3 separate regions of the Homo sapiens genome follow, and all the other regions are linked to region 1. The links come from fine-mapping of genetic effects on gene expression. A gene starts in region 1. Each other region holds a variant in brackets. All regions are shown on one strand. Distances are from middle to middle.

The links. PIP is the estimated chance that this variant, and not a neighbour inherited with it, causes the effect.
Region 2: its variant is fine-mapped to the expression of PPIF in blood mononuclear cells (TOPMed, PIP above 0.99).
Region 3: its variant is fine-mapped to the expression of PPIF in whole blood (TOPMed, PIP above 0.99).

What each region holds. Positions count from the first base shown.
Region 1 is chr10:79,344,883-79,350,098 of GRCh38, reverse strand. PPIF (peptidylprolyl isomerase F) reads right to left here and starts at 2,630. Exons shown (of 6, transcript NM_005729.4): 1 at 2,356-2,630; 2 at 993-1,023; 3 at 346-434. The coding sequence starts at 2,550. RefSeq lists an enhancer at 382-882, cis regulatory regions at 1,649-2,149, 1,832-2,332, 1,861-2,361, 2,364-2,886, 2,354-2,886 and 5 more and silencers at 2,197-2,426, 2,447-2,856.
Region 2 is chr10:79,377,054-79,382,269 of GRCh38, reverse strand. No RefSeq gene overlaps it. Among named protein-coding and RNA genes, the nearest start is that of PPIF, 32 kb to the right of the region's middle. The variant T/C (reference allele first, on the strand shown) is at 2,239.
Region 3 is chr10:79,311,682-79,316,897 of GRCh38, reverse strand. It overlaps ZMIZ1 (zinc finger MIZ-type containing 1), which reads right to left. Exons shown (of 25, transcript NM_020338.4): 25 at 379-4,256. The coding sequence ends at 4,149. Among named protein-coding and RNA genes, the nearest start is that of PPIF, 33 kb to the left of the region's middle. RefSeq lists cis regulatory regions at 1-287, 1-293, 1-319 and enhancers at 3,361-3,860, 4,618-5,118. The variant G/C (reference allele first, on the strand shown) is at 3,140.

The DNA of each region.
Region 1 (5,216 bases):
GGGGCACACAGGGGACAAGGTCAGAGACCACTGGAATATGCTGGCTCTTCAAAGTCTTCAAGGCCACCCCCAGCACATCCATCTCCCAACCCAGCTCTCTCTTGATAGACTCCACCTCCCAGTCCCCCGGGCAGGGCCTGCCACTGACCTGGAGTGGCAGCGGGTTGGGGCTGGGCTTCCATGTGCAGTGAAGCCTGGATACAGGGCTAATGCAGGGAGGGCAGCCTGGCTGACAGAGCAACTGCAGCTGCTCTGCTCAGCACCTTCCTCATACCAGGCATCTTCACACACCCACAAGGCAGCTCCTGCTCTCATCCCCCCTTACAGAAGAGGAAACTACATTACCTGGCACATGAAGGAAGGGATCACCCTGTGGAAGGTGGAGCCTTTGTAGCCGAAGCCCTTCTCACCAGTGCACAGGGCTCTGAAGTTCTCTGAGGGTCGAAGAGAAACACAGGTCAACAGGGCCAGGCCCCAATTCCAGGGTCATACCCGTTCCAGCCAAAATCCCTGCTACATCCCCAGCAGTGAACAGGGGGATAAAGACTCTGGCCCACCTCTTGGGTCTGCTCTGCCCAACTCGCTATGTAACTGGACAAGTCACTCCCCTTCCCTGTCCTCAGTACCTGAGCACTGTGACAAGAGTACAGGCTCATGGCTGTGCTGGCCAGCAGGGCACGGACTCAAGGGCTGTGTGCCCATCACCCTGCCTCACTGGGCACCAGGAGTGGGGAAGTCTCCGGGAAATTTACATGTGCCTTCCACTGGCTCTGAGGCTCCCAGCTACTATGAGAGAGGAGGGCAGAGCCAACGTTGAGGCCCAGAGAGGGATGGCAGGGCTGCCCCAGAGCACCCAATGGCTGAGCCACACATGGAGCTCCCATCTGTCAGGGGTCTCTGAGCCCCGACTCTTCTCATCACGCCACCCACCTTGCCCTGCCTGGCCCCCTTCCCTCTAGACCCATCTCAGAAGGCCCCAGGCCCTGTCTTACCAGCTGTCTTTGGGACGACATCTGCCTTCAGCTGTTGGGGGAGAAGAAGGACAAAAGAGGATGGTCATTGGAGAGGCAGGTGAAGGTGGGTGTCTCTCAGCACCCACCCACCCCCACAGTGGCCAAGGAGGCTAAGGAAGAAGCACGTGGACATTCCATTCCCATTATTGCCAACCCCCATGGGAGGCAGCTCTATCATTTCTGGGAGCCGTTTCCTGAACCCAAGGCTGGAGGAGGTGGCCTTGGTTTCCTAATCTGTCAGAAGAGATGACAATGCTATCTTGGCCTACTTCTGTGGACACAGCTGGCAGTGCTCCCACAGCTGGGCCCAAAGCATCAGAAATTCAGGGACAAGAGAGTGTGTCTAAGGTAGAAGCCAGACCAGCTCCTCCATTCGGGGTTGGGAAACTGAGGCCCAGGGAGAGGCATGAGGGTGTGGGGAGGGAAGGCTGAAGCCCCATCCCAGCCAGCCTCTACCCTCGAAGCTGCAAGACCCACCCTGGAACCAAATGGAAGCAGGAAGGGTGTCCCTATTTTCCAGAAGAAACTGAGAATGAAGAAGAAATACTAAGGGCTCCCTGGGATACGGGCCAGTCAACACAAACAGACCCCTGCTGTCAATGTGTGGCCGACCTGAAGGCTCCACTAGGGCTTTCCCTCTAAAGCTACCCTGGTGACTGTTTCTTACTTTGCTTTAGAAAAGACCCAAAAACAGAGTTAGGGGAGGTGCTCAGTGTGGCCCCCAAGGACAGTGGCAGGGGTTGAGGCGCCGGGCACACTGTCTCTGAGTGTGTCCCGACTCGCAGGAGGGGCATTCTGGGGTCCACCAGGTGGCCGGGGCCTGAGGCCTACTGGGCCCGCACTACTGCTGGAAACCACCTCTCGCTCCATTTCCCAGCACCCCCAGTGTGAGCCCGACCGCAGGGGCGGGGCCGGAGCCAGGAAGCGCTCCGTGTTGTGCAAGGGCCGCCACGTGAGCACCCGCTGGGCCACGACGCTCACCCCAAGACCCCCGACACCCACCTCGGAGCTCCGGATCTAGGCTCAGCCCCAGAAGGCTCCTGGAGCCCCTCCCTCGTGCCCGGGCCGGCCCAGAGGTGCTGAGCCCTCCCTCTCTGCGATCTGACCTTGAGCTTTCTCCTCCACACGTGCCCTCCCTCCCGTCTCCCCCGCTCCAGTGCTCCGAGGGAGGCCGGAAGAAATCATTCTGACGCCCATTCTCAGAAATGGGGAAACTGAGGCCCAGAGCTCGGCATGGGGAGGCCCAAGGTCACCCAGCGCGCCCGGCACCGCGCCGCCCGGGGCCCAGGGCTCTCCCCGGGCCCGTGTCCCGCGCCCAGGCCGGCCCTGCGAGCGGTCTCACCTCCAGCACCACGCGGCCGAGCGGCTTCCCGTTGGCGTCCACGTCCAGGTACACGAGCGGGTTCCCGGAGGAGGAGGAAGAGGACGGGTCGCCGGAGCCCTTGCTGCAGGCGCGGGCCGCGGGGAGGCGCAGCGGCACGGAGCGCGGGACGGAGAGCAGGCCGAGCCAGCGGGAGCCGCAGCGCAGCGCCAGCATCGCGGGCGCGGGTCGGGCGGGACACGGGCGGGGAGAACACAGAACTCAAACTGACGTCGCGCGCGCCCAGAAGGCCGAGTCCCGCGCAGCCGCGCGCCGCAGCCTTTATTGGCTTGCCCAGGTTCCCGGCCCTGCCCCCGTCCCGCCTCCTCCAGGCCTGTCCGTGGACTACCCCTGCCGGCCGCAGCGGGCAGCGCAGCCAGCCGGTGGGGCCGCGGAGCGTGAAGTGCTTTGAAACACTCCCGCCTCCAGGCCCAGAGACCCGGAGAACAGACACCTGGCAAAAGGTTGCTGGTTCCATGTTTATTAAGGTACCAGCAGATTTTTTTAAAAAAAGAAAAACTGCTAAAACGTAATTAATTCCAAAATATGAGCATCTATACGTTGCAATTTGAATATAATAGCAAAAGTCTACCTTTGAGCCCTTTGCAGGTAAGGCTCAGGCCAAATAAGCTTCCCTGCTGCCCTAGGTCCTGCAGTCTGAGAGGGTTAGAGAAAGGTGAGATGAGAGGCGGGATTAGTGAGCTAGAGGCGCAAGAGGGAGGAGATAAGCTGAGACACCTCCCATGATGCCCCCTAGCCTGCTTGTCCCGGCCTGGGCCTGTCTCTAGTTGTTTCTGGGGACCAGACCTGCTTCTAGCAAGACTGAAAACGCAGCCTGGGCTCATCATGCTCCTTTCAGGCCCCCAGCCCTCCCCAGGACTGGGTCTGATCCCTCCTCCTAGGACCCACACTGACAGCCCCGGGGCAGACTGCCAGCTGCCCCCTCCCATCAGCATGCACCCTGGGAGGGGACTCAGTGGGGAGACCCACAGCAGGAGCATTTAAACCCCACGTGCTGAAAGTGGGCTTCCCAGCAGCCAGAGCCACCCTCACTGCAAGGTGGTGGGAGGTCTGCAATAAATGGATGCCACGCAGGGACCTGAGAGAGCATCTGGCCCAACACTTGTACTGTCCCCAGGGGAAGCTGAGGCCTGGACACAGGAAGGCACTGGCTAGGGCTAGGGAGCCCTGGAGTATTGCTACCAGCTTGCACCAGTGCTCCAGGCCTCTCTGGGCCTCAGTTTCCCATCTGGAGGGTAAGGGTGCGATCATGCTCCTCATCCTGCTTTTTTCTCGTGTCTGTTCTTAGGATAAAATGAACGAGAGAGACATGGATTTGTCAACTAAGTACTGTGCCTGTGGGCATCTGTGATGGACAGAGTCTGGACTGTCTTTCTCACAGTTTGGGATTCAGAGAGCTGCGGTCTCAGTTAGAGGCCTGAGGGGTCAGAGAAAGGGGTGGGGCTGAGCCTTGGAGGCAGGTGGGCAGGAGTAGGGACCAGCTCTGGACTGACCTGCCCCAGATCCTGAATGGGCTCATGGGAACAGGTCAGGCAGCAAAATGCCAGCCAAGCAAATTCATGAGGTCAGAGCAGTGCCCTAGCTTCATAAGAATGCTAGCTTGGCCTCTGGAAGTTTGGCTAGCTTGGCTTCTGGAAGTTCATAGCCCCCTTCTCCGATTCCTGGCCTAGGAGGGGCCTAGGCACCCAGTGAAGCCCAGGTGGGATGCATTCCAGGTCCCAGCCCAGAATGGGGCCTCACTCTGCCCTGGGGAGCAGCCCCTCCTTTCTTATGATTGTGCCCTGAGGTGAGCAGGCCTGAGTGGGGAGCCCACTTGAGCCCTCAGCACATGTCCCAGACCTTCCTCTACCAGTGCATCCTGTGGATTTGAGAGTGGAGGAATCACGCCATGTGCCTTGTCATGAAGCTTCCTTAAGGCCCCAGGCTTCCCTGCGGCCAGTTCCAGGCCCTGAGCTCACAGGACCTTCAGCCACAGCAGGTAGCTCAGCGTACCCTGTTGTTTCTCAAGCCTGCTCCTGGGGGGACTCAGTTTATGCCCCATCCTGATGAAGCATGAGCATCCCCACCCCAGGGGAGTGCTGCCTTCATTCACTTGACCACTTCAGTTCTCAGAACCCTTTCCCAGCTGTGAACTCTGCCTGAGAGACAGCTCTGTTTTGCAGATGGGGAAGCCAGGCCCCAGGGGCTGGGGAGTGAATTGCCCAAGGGCAGGCTGTTGGAACTGGGACCAGTCTGTCTGACTTCACAATCAGGGTTATTGCATGTCAAACCCTTCTCACTCTCACCACGAAGCTGGTCCTTGGGACAGGGTGGGGAGGCAAGAGAGATAAGCCTGGGCAGACAACACAGTAAGATAGAAACGGTGGAGTTGGCCAGGGGGCTATGGAGCTCAGGGACTAGGGAGATGGTTTTAATAGTGAGCATGAGCTGAAAGGCCTGTGGGGACCCAATCACAGAGGGCTCTGAAGGCCTGGCTGAGGTCTGACATTGTTGGATAGCACTGGGGAGCCATGAATAGTGCAAAGACTCCATGCTGAGGACTCTGGACTGGGAACCAGCTTCTTTCATTCATGTTACTCCTTCCACTCTCTTTGGAAAATCAAACGTCATCACTACCTCCTAAGCCAGAGAAAAGCCTACCTTCCCCAAAGGCTTAGCTATGATGTCATCCCTTCCTGTTCTGTTCTCAGTGGTATCAGGAAGAAGGATAGTCTATAGGCTAAGCCATGAGCTGAACACATGCCCAGCCCTTGAGGGCTCCGGGCCCAGGTGACATCAGGCAGGTGTTAGCACTCACCTGGCTCTGAGGCTATTTATAGACT
Region 2 (5,216 bases), 32 kb before region 1:
GAGGCAGGAGACGGGGCAGGCATCAGAGAGACTTGGGGCTGGCCTCAGCTCCCCTGGGTCTGGGTCATCTTGTCATTGCCCTGCCTCCATGCCATTGATTTGCCTCCTCCCAGCCTCTCTGCCCCCAACTGTACACTCTCCAGGGCAACGGCCCTCCCCAGGTTGGCCCCAGACTGGGTGAGATTGTCGGCAGATGAGGTCACGCGTTCACTCAGCGGGGGGACTCCCGGGTGACCATATATAGGAGTGAATCTGCCTCAGAGACGGCAGCCCTGGGCCGCTCCCACTTGGCACACTCGGCCAAGATCAGGATATGGGCCCAGACAGGGAGCATCACACAGTGAGCAAACAGATCAGTCCAGGGGAGACGGGGCAGGGGCCCCTCTTCTGACCAAAGCCTGGGCTGTCATGAGGTGGGGCTCCTGCTGAGGGTCATGGGGAACCACAACGAAGCAAGACTATCAGCAGCCACCCACCTGCAAAGCCCAGCATCGGCTCTTGCTGTTCTCAACCTTGCTGCTCACCTGAGTCACCTGCGGGGCTTTAAGAACATCATGCCTTGGTCCCACCCCAGGGAGGCCAAGGAAGTGGTCCAGGGTGTCTGAGTTTGTAAAGCCCCCCAGCTCAGTCCATTGTGCATCCAAAGTTGAGCAGCACTGGACTTCAGATGGTCCCTAGTGTTCCTGTGGGACCCACGGTGATGGGGAGGAGGCAGGGGGCAGAGAGTCCTGTCAAGGGGGCGCCCGGTCCTCAGCTCCAGCCAACTGTTGCTATCTATGAATGTTGTTGCCTGGGGAGGGAGGGAGGGGCAGCAGGAGAAAAACTGGAAATCCCAGTTGTTATGTGAAATTTTCCATGTTTTAAATTTTGGCAACGAGTTAAAGAGTTAACTGGATTTTTGAATAGTGTAGAAGTCAAAGCACATCCCTATGGGCCATCCCACGGCCCCTGACTGTGGCCTCTGAGATGGAGCAGAGAAAACAAAATGCCAGTCCTTGGGGTCAGGGACCATGGATGTGAAGGGGGAGGGAAAGGCAGGAACAGAGGCCACCAAGGCCAGACCTCCTGTCTTATTTGGGGTACAGAGCAAATCCCAGAACAAAGCCCCTTCCTGCTGATTTGCATCTAGAGAATTCCCTGCGCGGTGCCTGCCCTCAGTGTGTGGAATGGCCAGAGTCACTGGCCTGAAAGCAGGTGGCTGCCAGTCGGGCCCAGCAAGGGAGTGGAGAGGGGACCCATCTCCGCCAGGGTGAGAGGAGAATGGACCCCCTCCTCCACACCATGCCCTCTGCCAGCTCAAGTCCTCCAGCAGCCTGGGTGGGGCTATTGCTCTTCTTGGGCAGATCTGAGGAAACAGAGCCGGTGTCTGTCTCAGGGTCCTCCTGTCCCCTTCAGCACTGCCACCAGGCCAGCCCTGCCACCCCAGCTGTGTGACACTGGGTGGCTTTCCCCCTCTCCAAGCCCCAGCTCTCCCCGGGGTGTTGTGTGGATAAGACAACCCACTGAACACAAGACAAAGCGCACTGCTTGCACCCAGGAGGGGCCCGGGGAGTGTGGGTCTCCTGTTCCCACTGTCTGTGGCTCAGGCAGAAGCATCCGACCAGTGATCACACCAGGGATTCCGCAGGGAGCCAGGCCTCGAACCCAGGGCCCCAGGTGCTTTTGCGCACCCAGTAAGCATTGACTGGGCACCCATGCATGTTGAGGCTGGGGCTTCAGGGCTGTTATTTGATGACATGCCCTTGTCTTTGAGTGTGTGGCAGTGTGCATGCGCCTGTGTGTTTGTTTTGTTTTGTTTTCTGTGGAAAGAACACAAACCCAAGGCAAACAGCCTGCATTTCAACATCTCCTGGAGCCGTGGAAACCAGTAACTCCCTGGACAGGAAGGATTTCCGGTTGGACTCAGTGCCCATATCCAGAGGCAGCTGGCTGCTGAGGACCCAGGAGAGAGCAGAGTCCACCAAAGAAATGGCCGGCAAGGGATCCAGAGAGGGTGGCCCTGCTCTGGGCTAAAGCTGAGGCCCCACCGGGAAAGGTCTCACCTAGCACACTCACCCAGCAGGCAGGTGGCAGAGCCAGGATTTGATTGAACTTGGAGTTCTCACCTCCCAGTGCAGCGTATCAGGGCAGAGCTGGGACAGACACAGAGTTGCAAAGGTCAGACCAGGAGTGAGGGTCCAGGGCTGGGTGGTCTCAAAGGGCAAGAGACCAGGCAGGAGGAAGGGAGGTGGGGTAGGT[T/C]GGTGCCAAGTGGTGATGGTTGCCAGGTTGTGAGGAGCCCCCTTGGCATCTGCTCCAGACACAGAGAGGGGAGACCTGGCCTGGGGAGAGACAGCGGGAGCTCAACCGCCTGAGCACCAGAGCCCATCGGGAGCCCAGGGCCCCCCCTGGCAGGACCCTGACAAGGCTCTACTTGGAATGTGTGACACAGAGCCTCATGTCCTTATCTGTAAGCTGGGGGCAATCAGGACACACTGAGTGGCAGGAGACACCTGGGCAGCTCCCGCACACAGCCCTGGGGTGGCCACCTCTCTCCCACCAGCCCCCACTGTGGTGCTGAAGCTCCCAGGCTCAGGCTACCAGCCGGCTTCTGCGCTGGACTCCGGCCATAGGCTGGAGTTCCTCCCGGTTTTCTGGCCTCATGCATCCTCCTAACAGTCCTGGCAGAAGCCAGGGCAGAGAACAACATGTCAGTATGTCGGGTGCATAAACTGAGGCCTGGGGAAGCCCTGCTGCCCCAGATTGACAAGCAGGGACCTCCACCACACCCTTCAACCTCCACTGTCTGCGCTGTTTCCGATCCTGACCAGGGCCACCGAGCGGATTCCCACCAGCCTGTCCAGTCCTTCCTTCAGCAAACAGCTGTCTGTCAGTGTGTCCTGGGACCTGGCCCAGAGCTCTGAGCTAAGCCTGGGACCCATAGTCTGCTGGGGAGTCAAGCCCCCACCTGCCCTCCTCAGAGACCCTGGTCCTCCTCCCTACAGCCTGGTAAACCCAGGGCTAGGCATCTGAATGCCACCCTTCCAGGGGCTGCCTCCTGTGCAGCCTGTGCCCGGCTCCTGCCCAGGTGTTTGGAAGTGGGGAGAAGGGGCAGGGAATACCCCAGATGAAGGGAATGAGGGCCGAGGTGGGCTTGCCATCTCTCCAAAGTCAGGTGTCCTTGCTACTCCCCCAGAGAACTGGAGGGAGCCAAGAACGGGCTGCGCTTGGGTATAAAGGCCACTCTCGACACTTTCCCTGCCGTTTGTTCTGAGGCTGGATCCCAACTGAGATGTCAGGGCCACTTGCTTCCCCCTGCCCACACACACACGCATCCTCACACATCTCACACGCGCACCTTCGCACATCTCACACACACACTCACACATCTCACACCCACACCCTCACACATCTCACACACACACATCTCACACGGGCACCCTCACACATCTCACACGCACACACACATCTCACACGCACCCACACACATTTCATGCGCACACTCACACATCCACACGTACATTCACACACATCTCACACGTGCACCCATACATCTCACACGCTCACTCACATCCCATACACATCACACATGCACCCACACACATCTCACACGTGCACTCACACATCTCATATGTGCACACCCACACAGCTCACACGTGCACCCTCACATCTCACAGTGCACTCACATCTCACATGCTCACACACCTCACACGCATCCTCGCACATCTCACACACACACCCACACACATCTCACACACGCACCCACACATCTCACACGTGCACTCACATCTCTCACACACATCTCACACACCCACACATCTCGCACATGCACTCACACATCTCACACGTGCTCCCTCACACATCTTACACATGCATTCACATCTCATACACACATCTCACACACCCACACATCTCGCACGTGCACCCACACATCTCACATGCGCACTCACACATCTCACACGTGCACCCACAAATCTCACACGTGCACTCACACATCTCACACACGCACCCACACCGCACACGTGCACCCTCACACATCTCACACACCCACATCTCACACATGCACCCTCACATCTCACACGTGAATCCTCACACATCTCACATGTGCACCCTCACATCTCACATGCGCACTCACATCTCACACGCACACTCACATATCACACGTGTACCCACAAATCTCACACACGCACCCACAAATCTCACACGTGCACTCACATCTCACACGCGCACCCACACGTCTCACACGTGCACCCTCACACATCTCACATGCGCACCCTCACACATCTCCCGTGTGCACCTTCACACATCTCACACACAGACCCTCATCTCACACGTGCACCCTCACACATCTCACATTCGCACCCTCAAATGTCACACGCGCACTCACACACATCTCACACGCGCACTCATACACAACTCACGCACCCACATACATATCTCACATGTGCACCCTCACACATCTCACACATGCACCCTCTTACATCTCACACGTGCACCCACACATCACACACGCACCCTCACATCTCACACACGCATGCACACATCTCACACGCACCCTCACACAACTCACATGCGCACTCACATCTCACATGCGCACCCACACACATCTCACACGTGTACCCTCACACATCTCACATGTGCACTCACTTCTCACACGTGCACTCATATCTCACATGCACACCCACACACCTCACACGCACACCCTCACACATCTCACACATGCATCCTCACACCTCATATGCACACCCACACACCTCACATGTGCACTCACACCTCACATGCACACCCTCACACATCTCATGTGCACACACCTCACACACGCACTCACATCTCCCACATGCACACACACATCTTGCAGTGCACTCACACACATCTCACATGCACACCCTCACACATCTCACGTGCACACACATCTCACACACGCACTCACATCTCACACCTGCACTCACACATCTCACACCCACACACATGTGCACACACATCTCACACATGCACTCACACATCTCACACGTGCACACACATCTCACACATGCACTCACAAATCTCACACACGCACTTACATCTCACACGTACACACACATCTCACACACACATCTCACACAGGCACTCACATCTCACACGTGCACTCACACATGCACACACAATCTCACACCCACACACACATCTCACACACGCACTCACATGCATCTCACACATGCACTCATACACATCTCACACTGTTGACACCCTCACATACACAC
Region 3 (5,216 bases), 33 kb after region 1:
AACAGCACCCTCTGTGGCTTAATATGAATAGCTTCCTGCTACTTAAACCCAGCATAATCCACAAGGGACCATCAAAGATGGGACACTGTTGCACACTCTGAGTCACATGCCACAGGGGCCCCTAGCACCCTGCAGCCACCTGGCCCTATTCAGCCACCCCAACTCCCCCAACCATCCGGCCACACACTGCACTTGCCCCACCAGGGACTGGTTCCAGGGACCCCCATGGACAGGGGTTCTTCCAATTCAACACCCAAACCACCTGCCTTTCTTTTTTGTGTGTGCAGAGGGTAACAGGGCGGGGGGTGTGGTTTAAAACAAAAGCAAAAACACCCAAACCACTCCTTAACATCCACAAAATAGCTAATTCGCCAAACCTTTGTTTTTGTCAATTTATTTAGAAAAAAATTAACATGGGCAAATGAGATACCTCAGTGTTACAACAGAGTATAGAAATGTCTAGCAATAGTCAAATAATTTGATCTTTAAATACAAAATAACCACATGAACACCTAATATACAGGTTTCATCTGAATACATATTTATTAGATAAATATTAGAGGTTGTCACATCATCTAACTACATACAGCTTTGCAAGACTAGAAATCACAATTAGTTTTTTGACCAGTTTAAAGTATGAAATGATTGCATTGTACATACGATGTACAAAGACGATGATGGTTTCTGTGGGAGTTACTTCAGGCTGCACTGGTGGGTGTGTTTATGTGTGTACGTGTGAATCACCTGTGATCATGATATCAAAAATTATACAAAGTATGAATTTGGTTACAATTTTCTTCTGAAATCCCCGTTTCTTTTCATTATTTCCATAGCACCCTAAAAATACACAGGTGGCAGGACTAGTACACTGAAGCTAAATAGTACATGTAGGTAAAATAAAAACAGAACAAAAACCCCTTTCCACTCAGGGTCAGAGTATATTACATGAGCGAGAGAGACAGACGTGGAGAACTCACAAATGCTATAACCAACAGGATCTAGTTTTTCCACGTGATGGAGTTCCAAGCTTTTTTTTTTGTTTTGTTTTGTTTCGCAAAATAAAAACAATACACATTCCAAGAGAAATGAATGCATCTGTTGACACGTCTCTATTTCTCATTTACATATGTACACACGTCCCTTGAGTCGCTGCTGTTGACACGGCCCTGTGTGGACGGGTCAGGCCCGAGGCCCGTCGGGAGCAGACCTGTAGCTCTCTGGGGGATCAGGGCTTCCATTAGGGAGAAAGTATTAGCAGTTTCTTAAAAAATAAAATGGCTACACGGAACATGATACATGGATAAAGCTTCAAACCAAGAAGATGGGGGTGATTGCCTGTACTTGGCCCTTCCCGCCTGCCTGCTGGCTCCCTGTCCATCTTGCGGAGTGGCGGCAGAAACATGCCTGTGGGCCGGGTGGATGCTTGGCATGGAAAAGTGGCTTGCAGAGGCCTCGTTTTTGCTGAGGTTACTTATGGCTCCAAGTAGTCGTCCGAAAGGATCAGGGAAGGATCTCTCCAGAGTTCAGGACCATCTCTGTTTATGGGCGTTGTCTACCTGCACCTGTCACAACCTGGGGCTTGCTCCCGCCCCGGATGCCTCTGCACCTCCCTCACACCCTGGCCTGGCTCCCAGAGCACTCCGGAAGAGCTTGTCTCCAGACTGCAGGCTGTAGGCACCACGCACGGTTCAGAGCCAGCCGGAAGGGAAGCTCTGGGCCGAGCTTGCTGGTGGAGGCTTGCTGGAGAGGGGACCCAGGAAACCCGCCTCAGGTGCTGAGCCCAGAGATGGTTGCAGGAGGTGCCCGGGGCCTGGGCTGCAGGGAGCATCTCGACTCTCCGCACTGGAAAGCCGTGGATCCACCTGTGAGCAGAGTGTGGACACACCCTGATAAGAACCAGAATGAATCCCAGGCCTTTCTGGGGCAAAGTATCAACGCAAGAAGCAAGAACTCCTAAGGAAGGCATCTGTAAGTCTGTCTGGAGCTTAATTCCCAGATGGTCTGACACAGGGCGTGGCCACTTGCCAGGCCACAGACACTGGGCAAGGGTGGCCACATGCTACCTGGCGTTGGCTTGTCCCTGCCAGCTGACTGAGGGATGGCTCTAAATAGCGGGCTGCCCGGTCTTCCAACTCCCAGCACAGCCGCCCATTCTGTTCACCCCTTCAACTGTACAAATAGCCCTGGTTGCTTTTTTTGTTTTTGTTTAAAAAAAAAGAAGACTCGGTCTTTGTCATTGAGTCCAGGTATTTTAAAAACACCAGCAAAGGCTATAACCAGGTCATGAAAATGTTGAATATTATCAAAGACGATACTAAAATATTCACAAAGATATTTACAAAAGCGATTCTTAAAATAATTGATTTGCATACTGAACAACACGCTATTTGAAAAAACCTCGACAACGGGACAAAGGAAGAAAAGGGGCCGGGGCAATGGCAGCTTTCCTACAGAAAACCTTGTGCCGTCTGGGACAGTGACTGGAAGTCAACAGCTGGGGCCACCTTTCCGGTAAAACCCACAGAGGAGAGCTGGGGACCACCCACAGCGGACGGGAGAGCAGGAAAGGGCCCCAGGCAGCAGCCGGGAAGGGCGCAAAGAATTTACAGATGGGACCCCAGTGACGGGACAACCTGGCATCACCCTAGGCCATGTGGCTCACGGGGCACAGACCAGCCTGAAACAAAGTGAACACAGGACAGGCTCCCCAGGAGGCCCTGGAGAGTGGTAAGCCAGATGGAGCAAAGCGGTGGAGGGAAGGCCAGAGGCTGCTTTTGCTTGAGTGAGCAGGAGTTTGGGTGAGATTGTGATGGTGGAGGAGTGCAGGCAGGGTAGGCTGGCAGCCAAGGGCAGTGTCTGGGGCAGGCCCAGAAACACGCCCCCCTCCCCCCCATGCCTGCAGGTACATACTGGTGCACATGTCCATGGCCTGGGCTGCAGCCGGGGGCAGCTTGGAGCACAGGGACAGAGGGAGGGGCTGGACAGACACCATTGCCCTGGGCTCTGGTTTCTGCACCTCCCCGGCCTTTCCACGCACTGCCCTTGCCATCTGATTGGACAAAGAGAACTAGGACAGAGGGAAGTGGGTGTCCCACGGAAGTCTTGGAGAGGTGGCAGGAGAGGGACTAGGAGAAAAACA[G/C]AACAGACGGAGAGAAATGGTTTGCTTGCTGTCCAAGAGCAACGTTCCTTTTCTCCAGGTGACTTCATAGCTTTAAATTGTTGCTGTTTAAAAAGAGAGTGGCTTGGAGCAAAGTTAGAAGTTGCCGCTCCTGTTTGCTTCTGACAGGTTATATGCCCGCGCCCCCCAACCAAGGGCACAATCACTTTGGTTGGGTGTACACCTGCTCTCTCTGTTCCCCAAGCCTGGGCCCTGTCTGAGCTTGGAGGTGGAGCCTCAGGGACGTCCTGGCTCAGAAGATGTCCTGGCCCTCTTCCCCACCAGTCCCCAAGCAGGAATGGCAGACCCCCTCTCAAACACAGACTCTTGTCCTTTTTCTCTGCTTTCTGAGTGTGTTTATGGGGTATCTTGGCTTATAGGTCAGGGGTCAAACCGATGACCCCTGGCCCCCGAGAGACGTTGTCTTTCCCAGAGGTTTGTGCTTTTCTGTGGTGGGTGGTGGTGGGTGGGCTGGTCTCACTGCCACCAACTGCCAGTGCTCCTCCAAGGCTCGGGGCCCATGCTGGGGCCCGGGGGCCTTCTCAGGCTCCACAGTCACTGGAGGGAGGCTCTGGACCAGGAAGCAGGGAGGCAGGGTTACAGTCTAGAAGATGGAAGAACCTTGGGGACACTGGAAGGTCATCTGGAATCGGCACACGCGGAGGGACCGGGAAGCCGCATCAGCGTGTGCCCTCTTACCGGGCTGGTTCCTCTCGGGAGGGTGGTCTTCAGGCCTGCGCTGGGCATGGGCCCAAGCCAAGGGTGTGGAGGTGGGACGTGGGCTCCAGACCCACACAGCCTTCCTGGTGCACTGGTGCACCCTCCCTACCCCTCTGTTCTGAGAGGGCTGCAGCGGGGGAGGGCTCCCCGCCCCACAGCCCGTGGCTCTGGTGCGGGGCGGTCTGAGGGCACAGGCTCCCAGGTGGAAAAGTGTGTTGGGTAGGTGGGGTAGGATGCAGAGTGTGGAGGGATGGCCCCGACCGGGTGGCCCTCAGTTGTTCTCAAATAGAGACAGGAGGTCATCGTTACTATTGCTCGGCAGGTCGGGGGGGTCCAGATAAGACAGGAGCTCGTCAGGATTTGTGAGTTCGGGAAGGAGCTGGAAAAGAAGGAGTAATGAAGTTCAGATGAGGTGTGCCTGAGAGGCAGGCCCCGGGTGAGGAATGCAGGGGCGCCCTGGCCCGTCCCCCTCCACCTGCCTCTCAGGACCCTAGCCAAAAAAAGGGGTAGAGAACAGCCTTGGGCTTGGGCCTGCCAGGTATCCCCACACATACCCCGGCCACTGCACCGAGTGTGGGGCACCCCCATGCTCATTTCAAGCCTCAGGATTGGGACCCGCAGCCCACCAGCTGAGGCCTGAGCAGGGCTGACCCTTTTCAGGCATGGACTTCAGCCCTAACCTGGGAAGGCCCCATGGCAGGTCACTTGGGCCTCCCAGCTGAAATCACATGCTTCACGTGTAAGCACAAGGAGGTGGGCTGGTGGGAAGGCGGGAAGGCGAGTGGTTCCTGCACCGCCCCCAACCCCCCAACATCCCTCTTCTCAAGGGCTCGCCACTCCTTGGTGAGCCTGTGGCTGGCTGGCAGCCATCCTTCCCTGTGGCCCCGGAGGGGATGCAGACTGTCTCTACCCTCTACTGAGATATCCTTGGAGTCTGTCACATGGGGAGCCTCATGCATCTAAAAGCAGCCCCACTGGCCTGGTTTGAGGGGGAACACTGGGCAAGGACCTGAGATGGCTGCACAGTGAGTGAGTCCTAGCTAGCACAGAGCTCCTCTGATGCTGCAGGGCAGAGGCTGACAGAGCAGGGCTGGGGGTGAAGAACAGGAGGGGCCGAGGACAAGCCTCCTCCCGGAGTCTGGCACCAGCTCTGTGTAGGCATGGGCGGGGCCGGTGCTCAGTCCCATCCCGCCAGCCCCATCCAGCAGCCCAGCCCCATCATCCAGGGTGACCCCCACCATCTTCCAGACCTCAGGGTAGGAGCCCTGGCACCTCTGCTGCCCATGATGGCCTGCTGCCCCTGGCTGTGACCCAAGGCTGCCCCCTCTGCCCCCACCTT